Linked DNA regions of Homo sapiens: region 2 is linked to region 1. Evidence: fine-mapped expression QTL. Tissue or cell type: whole blood. Region 1 holds a variant in brackets; the other region holds the start of a gene. All regions are shown on one strand. Distances are from middle to middle.

Evidence for each region. PIP is the estimated chance that this variant, and not a neighbour inherited with it, causes the effect.
Region 2: it holds the start of TNNT3, and the variant in region 1 is fine-mapped to the expression of TNNT3 in whole blood (Lepik 2017, PIP 0.95).

What each region holds. Positions count from the first base shown.
Region 1 is chr11:1,876,395-1,884,465 of GRCh38, forward strand. LSP1 (lymphocyte specific protein 1) reads left to right here. Exons shown (of 11, transcript NM_002339.3): 2 at 3,693-3,830; 3 at 5,038-5,202; 4 at 7,025-7,166; 5 at 7,538-7,630; 6 at 7,886-7,929. MIR7847 (microRNA 7847) reads left to right here and starts at 3,651; the gene lies at 3,651-3,753. RefSeq lists enhancers at 1-49, 50-946, 5,626-5,835. The variant T/C (reference allele first, on the strand shown) is at 4,861.
Region 2 is chr11:1,914,693-1,922,763 of GRCh38, forward strand. It overlaps TNNT3 (troponin T3, fast skeletal type), which reads left to right and starts at 5,011. Exons shown (of 16, transcript NM_006757.4): 1 at 5,011-5,070. It also overlaps a transcript of PRR33 not described here. RefSeq lists a silencer at 1,729-1,778 and an enhancer at 2,329-2,378.

The sequences.
Region 1 (8,071 bases):
TGTCCAAGGGACCTGTGGTCAGGCCTGGAGGAGAAGCTCCCCCTCCCCTCGACATCCTCCCCGCAGCCCTTGCTCTTCACCAGAGCCTCCTCACTCCCCAGGACCCCAGAGAGGACGGACCCTCTCCAGCCGCCCTCTGGGCTCAGGACAGCCGGGTGGGGCAGCCACAGGAGCTGCCTGCAGGGGGCAGAGTCGGGACGGGGACCGAGCCGGACACCCATTCTGCAAGTGTCTGCAGGGGGAGGACGGAGGTGGGTAGCTGGGAGTGCTGGGCCGAGGATGGGCATTGTCAGGCCCTCAGCGGGGACTGGGAGGTAGAAGTGGGGGTGGGGGTTTGTGGAGGAAGGAGAAGAAGGGCCAGCGTCCCGAGTCGGGGGGTGCTTGGCAGTGGATGAGGCCGGCAGGAACAGACCTGAGCTTGGGGAGCTCCACTCCGAACGAGGCATCCGTCAGAGTTCTGTGCATACTGGTGTCCCTGGCTGGGGGCCAGGCCCCGAAGTGGAGCCTGGGACTGTGAGGGTGCGGGGGTGTGCTGGGGTGGGAGGTGGATGGAGCCCCCCCACCGCCTGGCCCCTTGGGCTGAACCTTGGGCTTCGGAGCCAGAACAGACACAGGAAATCGCCTAATTGCATTTGTGCAGGAACACCAAATCCCTCGCAGCTGCACGGGGCTGAGCCAGGGCCACGGGCGGGGTCGGCCATCCCAGAGTCCTGACAGCTCCGTGGTGCATGCCAAGGGGCCTGGGCCGCTGGCCGGGGGGCGCCTTTCCCAGGCCAGAGGCCCCCACCCCACCCCAGGAGAGCTGCCCCCCTTTCAGTTCCCAGAACGGAGCCCAGCTGTGGAATAGTGAGGGGGTGAGGTCATGGGGAGGGGGCCCGCATGACTCATATCCTGGGGTAGGGGAAAGGGAGGAGACGTAGAAGGGGCCCAGAGGCCTCCACGTCCTCAGGCTGCTGGGTCAGAGGCCAGGGGCTGGCCGGGCTTCTCCCCAGCACTGGGTTTTAGGGGAGACACCAGGAGATGCTTACTCTGCATCCCCTACTCTGTCCCCCAGGCCCCTAGCCAGGGAGAGCTCAGTCGGAGTGATCCTCCAGGGGCCCAGCTCTGCAGGGACGATGTTCCCAGAGTACACACCTGGGCCTCGTGCCAGGGCCGGCACCGCCGTTGTCGGGGCAATGGCAAGGCAAACAGTCAACGTTTGCCTCACTAAAGTGAGGCTGCGGCACCCTGAAGGGATCCCTGGAGGGGGACGTGGTCCCCTTGTTCCCAAGCCTGTCTGCACACGCACGTGGATGTCAAAGGTTCCCGTGTGTGAGCACGTGCATACTTGTATGTGCATGGGGTGCGGGCATGTATGCCTGTGTGGCTGGAGCGTGGGCTCGTGGAGAACGTGTGTGAGTTGGGTGTGCACCTGCGTGTGCCCCAGGCCTAGGGAGTCCTGCGCCCGGCCGCACTCCATGTGTTGGGCATGAGCTGTGAGCAGAGTGAGGGCCTTTGTGGGGCTGTTGGGGCCCGGACTGCTTGCCCATAGGGGTGGACCTGAGGAAACGTGTGCACACGAGCTTCTGGGGTCTCTGCGCCAATGTGTACTTCCAAGCCCCGCCTCCCCTATGGCTTGGTGGAGGGGGTCTGTGGAGCTGGAGTGAGGGCCCTGGACCCATCGGAAGCCCAGGTCCAAGGAGGAGCATGGGCTCCCTCTCATGCCCCAGGCCCAGGGACACACACCCCAGCTAAGCCCTTGCTCACATGGAGGGGCTGGGACATGGGAACACGGGGAGCAATATGGCCAGGCTTCCCCTCCATGGAACCCCTCCACCTCCTCAACACTCTGCCCCAGCCTGCGCCGCCCTCTGTGTGGAGGGGCTGGGGCGTGAGTGAGCACGAGGGCCCCTGCGCCCCAGGCTCTGCCTCCTCAGGTGGAACAAGGCCCAGCAGCCCCCAGCCATGCGGAGGCCGGCAGAAGCGGGAAGCTGGGCCTCATCTGCCCGGATGATGGGAGCCAGGTGTGGGGAATTAAGTGGCTTCCTCGGGGGCCGGGAGTTGAAGGCACTTCTGAGGAGCAGGACAGGCAGGCGGATTCGGGGGCGCGGGGGGCGGGGTGCACAGGCGGCTGGGTTTGCGTGGCTGGAGTCCCCTGTGGCTTCGGTGGGGGGAGTGGGCCTTGAACTCGGGCCTGTGGAAGGGCCTGGCTTTTGTCTGAGAGGCTTAGGGGAGACCTAGGAGAGATTAGATCACGCGCTGGCAGGGCTGTCTGGCCAGGGGACTGGGGCCCAGTGGGGATCAGGCTGCAGGGTCAGGCAGCGGCCACTGGCCGGGAAGAACTGAGACCCCAGTGGGGAGACCCCAGCCCTGCTCCCTGTTCTGGCCTGGGCTCCCTCCCTGGGTCTGGGATAATAAGCCCTGTAGGAGTGTAGAGACCCTGGACCCCCTCTCAGGCTCTAGGAGGGCGATGGGAGGCAGGGCCATGACAGCTGAGGCTGCGGTGTCTGCAGGACCTGGACCATCTGAGAGCTGCTGGGCCGGGGCTCTGATGCCCAGGTCCAGGCCAGCCTGTGCCTACCTCTGTCCCTGAGGGGGGCGCGTGGGACCCCAAGAAGCCATGGTTTCAGGCTCTGAGGGCAGAAGCACTCCCTTACCTCAGTTTCCCCATTTTTGAAATGGCTCAATCGGCTGGGTGCGGTGGCTCATCCCTGTAATCCCACCACCTTGGGAGGCTGAGGCGGGCGGATCACCTGAGGTCGGGAGTTCAGGACCAGCCTGACCAACATGGAGAAACCCTGTCTCTACTAAAAAATACAAAATTAGCCGGGTATGGTGGTGCATGCCTGTAATCCCAGCTACTCAGGAGGCTGAGGCAGGAGAATCGCTTGAACCCAGGAGGCGGAGGTTGTGGTGAGCCCAGATCACACCATTGCACTCCAGCCTGGGCAACAAGAGTGAAACTCCGTCTCAAACAAACAAACAAAAGAAACAGCTCAGAGAGACTCCGCAGAGGGCTCTGAAATAAGGATGGGGTGGGGTTGGGTGAGCCGACCCTGTAAGGTGCCCCCAGCTATGGGGTTAGGCCCAGGCAGGACCCATGAGTCTGCGGAGCTTCTGTGAGCGGGGCTGGTGGTGGGACAGGAGGTGTCCTGCCTGGACGTGCTCAGGCCCTCCTTTCCTCAGCCTTCGACCTCCCCTTTCTCCAACACGCCCTGCCTTTGGGGTGCAGGAGGGAGCACCCGCAGGTGGGGTGGAGGTGCCGCCTGGCGGTGGGCTGCGGCCAGTCTCCCTGGACTCCAGTATCTTCTTCCTGGGCCCTCCAGGGTCACCTGGGTCTAGGTCCTGGTTCTACTTAGGGAGGGAGGCAGGCTGGGAGAGGGGGACAGAGGGCCTTTTGTCCTGTCCTTGAGTTTCTTCAGGCTTGAATGGGCCTTGGAGTCCCACCTTCATCCCCACAGGGCACAGGGGTGCCCAGATCCTCACAGGGCCCCAGGACCCTCGCCTGGGCCAGAGGGCACCTCATGACCACGTGGGCAGCCTCTATTTAAAGATGGACAAGGTGAGGCCTGAGGGCCGGCCTGGGACTGACCTCGTGGACAGGGCTGCCTGCACCGTGTGGCCCCAGCAAGGCCTGTGTAGATGGGAGGAATGGGTGCAAAACAGCACCTGTGTCGGCTGTGGCGTGACTGTCCCTCTGTGTCCCCCACTAGGCCCACTGCTCAGTGGAGCGTGGAGGACGAGGAGGAGGCCGTCCACGAGCAATGCCAGCATGAGAGAGACAGGCAGCTTCAGGCCCAGGACGAGGAGGGAGGCGGCCATGTCCCCGAGCGGCCGAAGCAGGAGATGCTGTGAGCAGCCCCATAACGCGTGCCTGGGCTCTAGCCCCTATCCGTGTACCCTGGGGCCTGGGCAGAGGGGGAGGTCAAGGGCCTGGGCTTGGGGGTTCCAGTGCAGGATGAGAGCGAGGAAGGGCCCCCAGGAGCAGGCGTGGGAGTGGGTGAGTGCTCCTGGGGCGAGGGTGGCCACAGCCCTAGAGGAGGGTCTGCCAATACCTGGCTGCCTCCTGGGCGCTGACCCAGGCTCTGTGTCCGTGCCCTGGCCCTTGCTCGGACCGCCTCTGACCCCAGCCACGCAGCCTGGCCGAGCCCCCCACCAGACTCCCCCGCCAGTGACTCACAGAGCCACGTCCAACTTGGCGGCCAGGCTGGCTTGCTTCCTCCTTGGGCCCAGGAGGCCTCCGCGGCTGGGCTGGGCTGTTTTTCCAATAATGCTTCCCTTCCTTCTGGCCTCTTTTGTTCCATTTTCTCCAAGTCAGCAGCCTTGGGCAGAGTGGGGTTCAGCGGTCACCATAGTCAGGCCCTTGGCCACCCCCACCAAGGGCCCCAGCTATCCAGGGGCTCCCCCTGCCACATGGGAGGCCTGAGAAGTCGGGGCTTAGGAGGACCTCATGTAGGGTCCTCATGTGGGGACCAGGGCAGCCCTTGGGGAGCCCCAGGATGATGGGGGAGGCACAGCCCTGCCCTAGGGAGCCCCAGACTGATGGGGGAAGCACAGCCCTGCTGTTAGGGAGCCACAGGCTGACGGGGGAGGCCCAGCCCTGCCCTAGCGAGTCCCAGAGTGATGGGGGAGGCACAGCCCTGCTCTTAGGGAGCCACAGGCTGACAGGGGAGGCACAGCCCTGTCCTCAGGGAGCCCTACACTGATCGAAGAGGCACAGCCTTACCCTCAGGGAGCCCCAAACTGATGAGGGAGGCATAGCCCTGCCCTCAGGTAGCCCCAGGCTGATGGAGGAGGCATAGCCCTGCTGAGCCTCAAGGAGTCCTGGACTGATGGAGGAAGCACAGTTCTCAGGCTGCCCCAGAACTGACGGGGGAGGCA[T/C]AGCCCTGCCCTCAGGTATTCTGACCACAGGAGACACAGCCCAGAGCCAGCTCTGTGGCAGACAGGGTCTCCCACACTTGGAGTCCAGGGCCTGAGCGGGCGCCGTGAGGTGAGTGTGGGCCCTGGGCAGAGGAGGCAGCAGCCGCCCAGGCCTAAGCTCCCCCCTGCTACCCTCAGCCTCAGCCTGAAGCCCTCGGAGGCCCCTGAACTGGATGAGGACGAGGGCTTTGGCGACTGGTCCCAGAGGCCAGAGCAGCGGCAGCAGCACGAGGGGGCGCAGGGCGCCTTGGACAGCGGAGAGCCCCCCCAGTGCAGGAGTCCTGAGGGGGAGCAAGAGGACAGGTGAGTGAGGGCCTCGAGGGCGGGCGCTGGGCAGAGCAGGGCTCCCTCTGGACCTCGAGGGCGGGCGCTGGGCAGAGCAGGGCTCCCTCTGGACCTCGAGGGCGGGCGCTGGGCAGAGCAGGGCACCGCGGAGCTCCCTTCAGGCCCTCAACCTGCGCCTGAGCAGCCACCCCATCCTCCCCTTTCCAAGCAGAGCCTGAAATGCCCCCATGGCCAGGAAAGGGGGAGACAGGAGGGGAGGGAGGAAGAGGGCGAGACAGCATGGTGGCCGGCGAGGGGCCGCGAGGAAACCTCATTCTGGGGCTCCCCAGGGCCCCTGGGCCCCATCCAGGCAGCTGCGAGGCCAGGCCGGGTGCTGCCACATCAGCACACAGCTGCGGCCGCTTCCGTAATGGAGGCTGAGAGCCCGCCGCCGCCCCTTCCTCCCTCGGGGCTGGCTGATCTCCATTCCCACGGAGGGGAGCAGGTATTTCCAGATGTGCATGCCGGAGAGTCGGCCGGGAGGACGCACTTTCCAGATGTGGGGATGTGTGTGCCTGTCTCAACCCCAACAGGCCCAACAGGGGCTGCTCCCGAGCCCCACTTCACTACCCCTGCTCGGGGTCCTTGCCGCTCTCAGTCATCTGTGGCCATGATGGGGCTGACCCCACCCGCCCTGCAGGGCCTGGGCCATCTGGGACCCCAGCCCTGCTCAGGACCCCCTTGCCTTGAGTGGGACCAGAGCCCATGGCTGGGCTGACAGTTCTCCCTGGTCAGGGTCCTTCCTGGCCCCTCTGAGGCCCTAAACCAGCCTGGAGCTCTAGGGACCAGTGTTGCTGAGCGACGCTCCCTTGTCCTCCTACAACCAGGCTCCCACTCCCCAAGAACCACTGGTCCTGGCCTGGCGCAGTGCCCACCGCCCCCCTCCCTGGGCCTCAGTCTCCCCCCTACGTGCTTGGGAGTCAGCGGCTCTGCTTTTCTGAGATGGGGCAGCTCCCTTCTCCCTTGGCCTCAGGCCTAGGCGGGCGAGGCTGCTCCCACCAGCAGGGGGCGCTTTGACTCTTCCGTGGAGCCCAGCTCTGCGGCCGCCACCCCACCCCCTGCACCTGCCTGGCTGCACAGACCTGCTCCTGAATGGCCCCTCTGTGTGGCTGCTGCTGGCTCAGACCCCTGCCCACCTTGGGCGGGTGGGTCTGGGTCTTGGCTGGCACGCACACCCAGGGGCCTGAAATCATGGAAAATTCGAGAATTTCCCATCTTCTCCTCCAGGTTCAGTCCTGCTCAAATGCAGAGCCGCTCAAAGCTGCCAGCTGGCTGGCCTCCCCTCCCCCGCAGCCGGCAGCCCCTTGGCCCTGCTCCTCAGTGACCTGGCCCCTACCCCTGCCTAGCCCTCCAAATGACCCAGCCTCCAGTCCCCCAAACACCCAAGGGCCCCCACAGGGAGCAGAGCAGGAGTGGTGGCCCCAGCAGCCCGGCCTCGCGGGGACCCCGTCAGACCAACCGGGTGTGCAAGCAGCTGCCAAGCTGAGGCCCAGCCACAAAGCTGGGGATTGAACCCAGCCTCAGTGCCTGGGGGACCCTCAGTCTGTAGAGCCCTGTCTGGCAGGGACTGGGCAGTTCCCCAGGGGCCTCAGGCCCTGACACAGGGGCCCAAGCAGACTGCGCTGGCTCTGAGGCCACTGGACCTTCTTTCCCAATGGGCTTGGGTCTCAGATCCCTTGGCACTCAAGTAGCCTGACTACCTTCATTTTACAGATGGGGAAACTGAGGCTTGGAAAAAGGAAGGGGTCAACCAAGCAATCCAATGGCCCTAGAACGGCTTTGCCTCCCTTTCCACCCACAGGCCCGGCCTGCATGCCTACGAAAAGGAGGACAGTGATGAAGTCCACCTGGAGGAGTTGAGTCTGAGCAAGGAGGGGCCAGGCCCAGAGGACACTGTCCAGGACAACCTGGGGGCCGCAGGGGCTGAGGAGGAACAGGAGGAGGTGATGGCTCCACCTCAGAGGGTCTGGGTGTACCCCCACCCCAGGGATGAGTCTGCCTTGGCTGTCTGCACCACTCTGTGGGCCCTGTGGGTCTAGCCCAGAGTGGGTCAGCACCCCACACCCCTAGACCTTGCAGCCCCTTCTGGGCCCACATTCTCAGAGAGGGCAAGGCTCAGTGATCCTCTTGCAAGATCCGGAGACATCTCTCCAGACTCCTCAGTCCCTCCCCACCAGCTCCAGAACTGGAGCACGTCAGGGCCACAGAGAACCTGGGGCTCAGGAAGGAACAGCATTTGTTCCCACAGGTGCTGGGCAGGGCAGGAGGGGCACAAGCAGGGGGTCACTTGGGATGTCTGTTTTTTTTTTTCTAGCACCAGAAATGTCAGCAGCCCAGGACACCCAGCCCCTTGGTCTTGGAGGGGACCATCGAACAGAGCTCGCCTCCCCTGAGCCCTACCACCAAAGTAAGTTAAGCTGCAAAGCCTGCCATCTTCTCCCCTCTCCCGTACTCATACCCAAAAGGCCAATCCCACATGCCAGCCACAGGAAGACCAGGCCCAGGCCTGGCTTTTGTCTGCTATCCCCCCATTGCCCGGTGCTCAGCGAACCCCCATGATATAAGGGTTGGGGGTTGGATTAGTGGTTGGAGTAGCTGGGGAGATGGAGGGTGGGCTTTACCTCGGCTGCTGCAGGCCTGTGTCTCTCTCCACCCTCTGCAGCTCATCGACAGGACCGAGTCCCTAAACCGCTCCATAGAGAAGAGGTCTGTCTGTCTGTCTGTCTGCTTTCTGGGCTCAGATCTTAGGTTTAACCAAGTGGGGGTTGAAGGGAGTCACAAGGTAGAGATCTGGAGACCGAGGGGGGCTCTGGGAGAGGCTTGGGCAGGTTGGGAGAAGCCTTGTGGG
Region 2 (8,071 bases), 38 kb after region 1:
CTGGGGTCACACACCTGGGGATGATGTTGCTCTGTGTGTGTGTTGTGGGGTCACACACCTGGGATGTTTCTGTGTCTTTGTGTGTGTGGGTTGTGGGGTGTACACACCTGGGGAGATGTTGCTCTGTGTGTGTTGTGGGTGTACAAACCTGGAGATGTTTCTGTGTGTGTGTGTGTGTGTGTGTGTGTTGTGAGGTCACACACCTGGGATGATGTTGCTCTGTGTGTGTCTGTGTGTGTGTTGTGAGGTCACACACCTGGGGATGATGTTTGTGTATGTGTGTGTTGGGTGTACAAACCTGGGGATGATATTTCTCTGTGTGTGTGTTGTGGGGACACACGGATGATGTTTGTGAGTGTGTGTGTGTATGTGTTATGGGGTCACACACCTGGGATGTTTCTCTGTGTCTGTGTGTTTTGTGGGGTCACACACCTGGGATGATGTTTCTGTGTGTGTGTGTGTGTGTGTGTGTGTTCTGGGGCCACACAACTGGGATGATGTTTCTCTGTGTGTGTGTGTGTCTTGTGGGGTGTACACACTTAGGGATGATATTGCTATGTGTGTGTGTTCTGGGATCACATCCCTGGGGATGATGTTATTCTCTGTGTGTGTGTTGTGGGATAGGACATCTGAGATGATGTTTCTGTATGTGTGTGTCTGTGTGTTGTGGGGTCACACACGTGGGATGATGTTTCTGTGTGTGTGTGTCTGTGTGTGTATGTTGTGCGGTCACGCACCTGGGATGATGTTTCTGCGTGTGTGTGTATGTGTTGTGGGGTCACACACCTCAGATGATGTTTCTTTGTGTGTGTTGTGGGGTCACACACCTGGGATGTTTCTGTGTGTGTGTGTGTTGTGGGGGGTGATGTTTCTGTGTGTGCATGTGTTGGGGGGGATATTATTTGTATGTGTGTGTGTGCGGGGTGATGTTTCTGTGTGTGTGTGTTGTGGGGGGTGATGTTATGTGTGTGTGTTTTGGGGGGGTGATGTTTCTGTGTGTGTGTGTGTTGTGGGGAGGTGTGTGTGTTGGGGTGATGAGTGGATGTGTGGATGGATGGATGGAGGGAGGGATGGATGGATGAAGGGAGGGTGGATGAAGGGAGGGAGGGAGGGATGGATGGATGCATGAATGGGTAGATGGATAGATGAAGAGATGGATGGATGGATGGATAGACAGGTAGATGGATGGGTAGATAGATGGATAGGTGGGTGGATGAATGGATGGATAGACTAATGATGGATGGATGGATGGATGGCGGGAGGGATAGATGAAATGGAGGGATGAGTGGATGGGTAGGTGATTGTATGGGTGGTTGAAAGGATGGACAGACGGAGGGATGGATGATGGAAGAGAAGGAGGGAGGAAGGAAGGAAAGGAAGTGGTGAAGGTGAGAGTGAATGCATGGGAATGAATAGATGGGTGGATGAATGGACAACTGTGTGAAATAGCAGACAGCCTGGGGACACCCTCCCTCCTGTCCCTCCTCTCCCAGGTCTTGCACTGGGCCCTGACACTCAGCCCTGCAGCCTTCAGCGTCTGGGAAGTCCCTTCGAGGAGCAGCACCCCAGACTCTGATGTTCTGGACTTCACTTTGCCATTCCCTTGGGTCCTCACAGCCACTATTTTCTGAAGGCTTCATGTCAAACCCTGCTTGCCTCATGAATACACACAGTTCAGAAAAGCAAAACCTCGACAGAGCCACCACCCACACAAGGGAGGTGACGTGCCCCCATCCTTTCTCAGATGCCCCAGCCACTGAGAGAGGATCCAGGCCACCCTCCCCAGCTGGGGAACCACCCAGTGACAGCACTCCCCTTGTTTCCCACCTGATCCGCTTGGGACGGTGACCAAGGGCAGCCGAGAGGCAGGCCCAAAGGCCACAGTTGGGCACTCAGCACTGGGGTGCAGAGTGGACAGCACCAGGGGCAGGGGGTAGTTGGGGTCAGCAGTGCTGAGGAGGCAGCCACTGCCCACCCCGCCCCCGACCAGCCCTGGCCCCTTGTCAGATCATCTGCACCCCTCGGCTCAGCCTCGAGAACAAGGACCCAGGGCCTGTCCCTCTGAGCTCTACCCAGCCACAGCCCTGCTGTGTTTCTGATGCAGCCTCCCGTCCACGGCCACAGCAACCCCATGCCCCTGCTCCTGGAAACCTGGAGGTCAGGCCATGCCCAATGCGGAGGTCAGGAGGCTCAAAAGGCCTGCAGCCTAAGAGGCCCCTGGCCAGGGATGGCAGATGAAGCCCCTAGCCTCTGTCCTGCCTGCCAGAGCAGCCACCAGACACCCTGTGACCCTTGCTACAAGCCCCTAGGCCAGCCACAGAGAAGACACCCATCATATCTGCAGAACGAGTCAATGAAACTGCAAAATCAGAAGCACTAGGCATGTGGGGAGGCAGCTACCTAGGGCTGGAGCAGCTCAGTTCCCAAGTGCTGTGTCAGCTGCTCCTGTCCTGGGCCTGGCAGTGATTGAGCCCACAGCTGGGCCGAGCGGCCTCAGGCTGGATCCAGCCTGGGGGCTCAGGTCAGCTCAGGGCATGAGGAGAGGCTCAGGACCCTCTTGGTCTCCACCACCCCCAACCATGCGCACTGGGTGCTGGGACCTAGATTGAGGGGCCCCGGCCACCATCTGGGGGCCACCCAGGCAGGGAGCTGCAGCCAAGACACTCAGGAGGCCATCCTCCCTCCCACAGCCTGCTCCCCACTCCCTGGGCTTGGCTCAGCATTTGCCAATTTCAGAACCCCCCCATCCCCCAACAACTGCCCTAGAGCCAAGGCCCCGTGGTCCGTCCTCAGACTCCTCCTGGGTGGAAATGCGTCCCCAACCCAGGCTGGGCCTCCCTTGTGCCCTGCCCCCACCCAGGTCTACAGTCCCCCAGGAGGCCCCTGCCCTGCCTCCTCTCCTTGGACCATCCCGGTCCGGCCAGATGGCAGCAGGGCATGGGTTACCTGGTGCAGGCCCTCGAGGCCGCTGGTGCCTGCTCTGTGCAGTCCCTGCTACGCCTCAGGCCCAGCGCCCGAGGGGGAGGTCGCCGATACCCAAAATAAAACCTGCCCTATCCCTCTGACCTCAGCTGGCTGGGCGGAGAGCGCCTGCCAAAGCTCCAGGAGCTGGGCGGGCAGCACCTTCCCCTGCTGGCCACACGGGGCCAGTGCAGGGTTATGGCACACCCACCTTCAGGTGCGCCCCTCAGGACCCCTGGCCTGGGTGAGGGCTTGGGTGGGCACAGGCTTCCTAGGCCTGCAGACTGAACCACGTGTAACCAGAATGGTGGGCTCAGGGCTCCGTTAGAGAAGCCGGCAGAGCGAGCCTGGAAAAGGAGGTTGGCCCCACCATGGGAGAGGATGGGGTGGGCCCGCTGACCCCCAGGGACCCGCTCACGTGCCTCTGAGGGAGCAGTTCTGCAGATGTCCCCAGTGGGCAGGAAGCTGGTCACAGATATCCAGGGGCCAGGGCTGTTTGTGGCCCCCAAAGCCTTGCCCATCGAGGACATGGACAGGGAGGGGAAGGCGTGGAATGCAGACGAAGCCACAGACCCAGAGCAGGAGGACGGCGACGTTCCCAGCAACCCCAGCTCCAAGAGCCTTCCCAGTGCCGGGCACTCAGCGGGAGGCAGGCAGGGGACCGGCCCTGTCCTTTGAAATGGCAGCCTGGGGCCAGCCCGCCTTGTCGTGTGACCCCAGGCACACCTTGCCTGTCCCTGGGCTCTGCGGCCTCGCTCTTCCATGGAGGGGTGGAATGAGGTGCCAACCACAGCCTTCCGGAAGGCCCCCGACCCGGCCCCAGGGCACTGTGAGCCCCTGCCGGGTTATCCTGTTGTCCCTGACTCTAAGCCTGGGGAGGACAGGGACCTCATCTGTGCCTCTCGGGACTCACCCCTGTCCTGGGCGCTGGCCAAGAAGGAACCAATCTGTGCCTGAACCGAAGAGTTCCGCAGACACCACCGCCCACGCTCAGCCTGTGGGGTCTGAGGGGAGTGAGGGGGTGGGTCAGGGTGCCAGACTGCTCTCCCCCACCTGGTGCCTCAGTTTCCCTGATCCAAGAGGCAGGGTTATCCAATCTGGTGGCCTCACTGGCCAGCATACAGGCCATCAGAGGCCAGGAAGGATGTCTGCTAGTCGGACGGTGCCACCTGGAGTCCTGAGGAAAGAAAACCAGTCTCCACACGCCACAATGAGCCTGTGGGAGATGCTGGCACAGATGGTAACGGCCACTGCGAGTGCCCAGGGTGGGGCCCCAGGGTTAGAAAGGGCCTAGAGGGAGGACCCAGACCCTTACCCAGCAAACTCCATGTGTAGCCCCCTGCAATGGCAGCAGCCCCGGGGGGAGGTATGGCAGACTCGGACTGCAGCCAGCCTGGCCATGTCCCTCGCCCGCTTATTGTGTAGGCCCCAACGGTGTCTAGCCAGGAAAGCAGAGCTGGCCTCTAAGAGGGTCTCAGATAGGGTGGGGGCCTGGCCTCAGTTCCATGGGGGGTCTCCGAGGCCTCAGGCTGCTTCCTCCCCGGGGGAGACAGCGAAGGGCCTGGGGCATTGGGCCGGGCGGCGGGAGGGGACCCCGGCTGTGCGGACCCTTTTCCTGGACAAATGTTTACTCCCACAGAACATCTCAGAGAGAAGGGGCGGGGGGGTGGGAAACCCGGCAGCCTGGCTCTGGGGACCCCCACACTAGTTTGGCCCAAAGAGAGCCTCGGCTTGGTGCCCCGGGGCCACCCAACACCTTCCTCCTCCCTCCTCAGCCCATCCAGAATGTACCCGCTGCTGGGAGTAAAAATAGCAGCTGACACCTCCTGGAGGCGGAGGGAGGACCTTGCCTCCTTCTCCAAGCACGTCCTCTGCATCCTGGCCTCCTTCAGCCTCCTCCTCTGGCCATTCCTATACTTGGTAAGGGGCCTGCACGGGCATAGCCCCCCCCAGCAAGACTCCGCACACACCCCGGCCACCCAGTCACTGGCCAATGGGCTCCTAGGAAGATCAAATGTCACTATAACACGAGGGTGTGAGCCGGGCGCCAGTGCCTGCAGCCGGTGCTGTCCACAGGGAGCTCCAGCCCTTCTCACACTCGACCCGCAGGTGGGTATAGGCAGGAGCGGCCACCCAGGACTGGGGCCGACGGGGCCTCCTGCGTGCGGGTGGACAGCCCCTCGTTCCAGGGACACTCTGGGGTCCTGGGGCGCTGAGGTCCCAGGTCCGTGTGGTGCCGAGCATCTCGAAGCATCATGGCTCGGAGCCCCCAGGTGGCTGCTCCAGCGTCCGGAGAGTCTGGGATGCGGACATGGTGGTGTGATGGTCTCAGCACCGGGAGGATGCAGAAGAAGGCAGAGTGTGGGAGGCCAGGAGGGGGCAAGTCGGGGCTCAGGGAAGCTCAGTGCTAGGGAGTGGCCTGAGGGCAGGAGGCAGAGAGGTGCGGGCTGTGAGCGGCAGGGAAGAGGCTGTGCAGGGGTGCTGCCAGGGCTTAGGTTGCCAGCTTGTGGTCGCCATGCAGACATTTGCCCAGGCCCGTCCTGGCCTTGCCATGCAGCTCTCGCACCTGGGCCTCCAACACCGCCATTTTGTAGAGATGAAAACGAGGACAGGAGGGCAGGGGCTCCTGTATGGCCAGCCCGAGTGTGTTGGGGTGGGGGCGTCTAAAGCCCACGCAGCCTTGGGGGCCAGCGTCTGGAGGTGCAGGACAGAAGTGGACAGGGGCTGGACTGGGGCAGGACGGGGCAAGAGTGAGGGGCTGGGCTTCATCGCGTCCCCCTGGCTGGAGGCTGGAGAAGCTGGCGCTCGTAAGAGCCCCCACCCACCCTCCCTGCCCTGGACACGGTCCCCCTGACTTGTGCCGTCTGATCAGGCCTTGGCTGCCCCTCCTGAAGTCCACGGAGGGACATGGGGCAAAGCAAAGGTTGGCTGGGTGGAGAACAGGTCTGGGGGCATGGTCAGGGCCACAGCAAGCAAGGGGCAGCGGCTTTTGCCTCCCCACCCTGCCCTGGCCCCGTCACCTCCCAAGGAGGGAAAGGTGATGCATACGTGCCCGAAGAAACTGACCGCATAGGTTATTTTCACGCAGCCCCTCCAAGGCAGGCACTAACTGGACACCTGCTTTGCGTCTCAGCTGTTGAAATGCCATCCCCTGCCCCCAGCACACCCCTGCCCCCAGCACACCCCTGCCACCAGCCCCTCCCCGCAACAGAGGCAATGACACAGGCCATACTGGGGGGAACAGAACAGCCTTGTGTTGCTTCCAGGCGCTCAGCAGAAAACCAGGTGCCTCAGTTTCCCCACTTGGAGAGTGGGCCTTTCCAGCGCACGTCGGGGGGCCTGGAGGTCACCCTGCCTGAGGGTGTTGGGGCACCCATGTGACTCTGGCCTGGGGGGACAGGAGGGAAATATGAGGAGCTGGGGAGGGCCTGGGTGCCCGAGGGTGAGGGGGCAGCTGTGGGCCAAGGAGGGCTGGGCTGTCACACCCGCCTCACCCACGTCTTGGGTTTCTGGGCAGAAACGTCTTGCCTATTTCTGGACACCTCAGCTGCCACTGGCTCCTTATAAATAACCCACCCCAGGCGAGGGCCACGCTGCCCCCATCTTGTGGCAGCCGACAGGTGTCTGCCCCGCCAGCGTCGGGCTGGGCACAGCAGGGCGGGGCCAGGCTCCGCTCCCTCCCTTCACTGACCCTCCTCCTCCTTACAGAGGATGGCCCTAGAGGAGTCTGTGGCGTTTGGGGCCTGAACCAGCTGGGAGGACAGCACGAGGGGCTGGTGGGCAGCCTGGGACTGGGTCACACCGGGGGCCTGGACAACACTGGCTCGTGGGGCTGAGGACTGAGGAGAGCCTGGCCCAGCCGTGGCAGTTACAAGAGGCTTAACCTGAGGGGCAGCAGAGTCTCAGGAAGAGATTCTGGGATAGGAAAAAGCTACCCCCGTTGCCTGGAAGACAGCTATCTGCTGGGTAATTTTGCATGGAGCTTAAGTTGCTCTGGGAAAATTAACATTCTTGACAGAGGGTTTGGAAAACGGTTCCCACCTCAGCAGTGCAACGTAGATGCATTTTTAGCTGATGAACGTGTGTTTTCCTTATACAACACTCCCAGGGGGGACCGTAGCTATTGTCTTCGAGTAATCTGTACTGTGTTGTAATGAACTTTGTTTTCTAAAACCCTGGCCAACATGCCGGTGCAGCTGCTCAGAGCCTCCCCAGGCCTGGCCGCCCAGTGTGCACGGTGGCCAGCTCACAGAGAGACGGTCCCCAGCATGCTGGCCTGGCGCCACCACCGCACATGGACAGGGCAGCCAGTCCTGGGCATGGAGCTTCCCCTAGACAGGGACAGATCCAGAGCATCCCCGGGACCAGGGAAAGCGGCCACAGGGAGGGAAATGGGGGGGCTGTTCTGTGGGCTCCTGCAGTCCAAGTATGCCTTGTACAGAGCCCGGCCCGGGGGGGTGCACGGGAAGCGGCCCAGACCCAACCCAACGTGCTCTGGGGCTCAGCCTCAATGTTTTCAGGGTACAGGGGTAACAAGAAGGAACAGCTTCCCTGCTCTGTGATCTTGGAGGAGGGGTCCTCAGAGGGGTGTGGTGGGACACACTCTGGGCACCCCATAGGAAAACAGGCACAGAAGGGAGCTTTGGGCTCAAATAGGGAAGAGGGGTTCTCATGGGGAATGGTAGGGTGAGCAGATTACTCATCTTGGGGAGCCAGTCTCGGTCATCCAGGGGCTCCCAGGGAGACCCCACCTACACCCACTGGGCAGAGAACACCCAGAGACAGGTTTCAGCTCCATCAGCGGGACCTTTCCAGTGTCTAGAGCGGGCTGGACGGCACACGGCCTGCATTCTGGATGACCCTCCTCAGGGGACGCCACGGAGAGGATGTCTGCCCTGGGTGGGGGTGGACGCCACGACCTTCCAACATCCCTTCCAGCTCCAAGATTCCAAGCTCCAGTCTGGAGCCAGGGCAGGAAGAGGGGACAGAGTCTGGGGCGCCAAGAGCTGGGAGGGGCCAGGAGCCCTGGAGAAAGGGGAGGCCCAAGGAGGTGGACTCACCCAAGGCCAGAGCTGGCCCCCAAACCCTGCCCGCGGTCCCCCACAGCGCT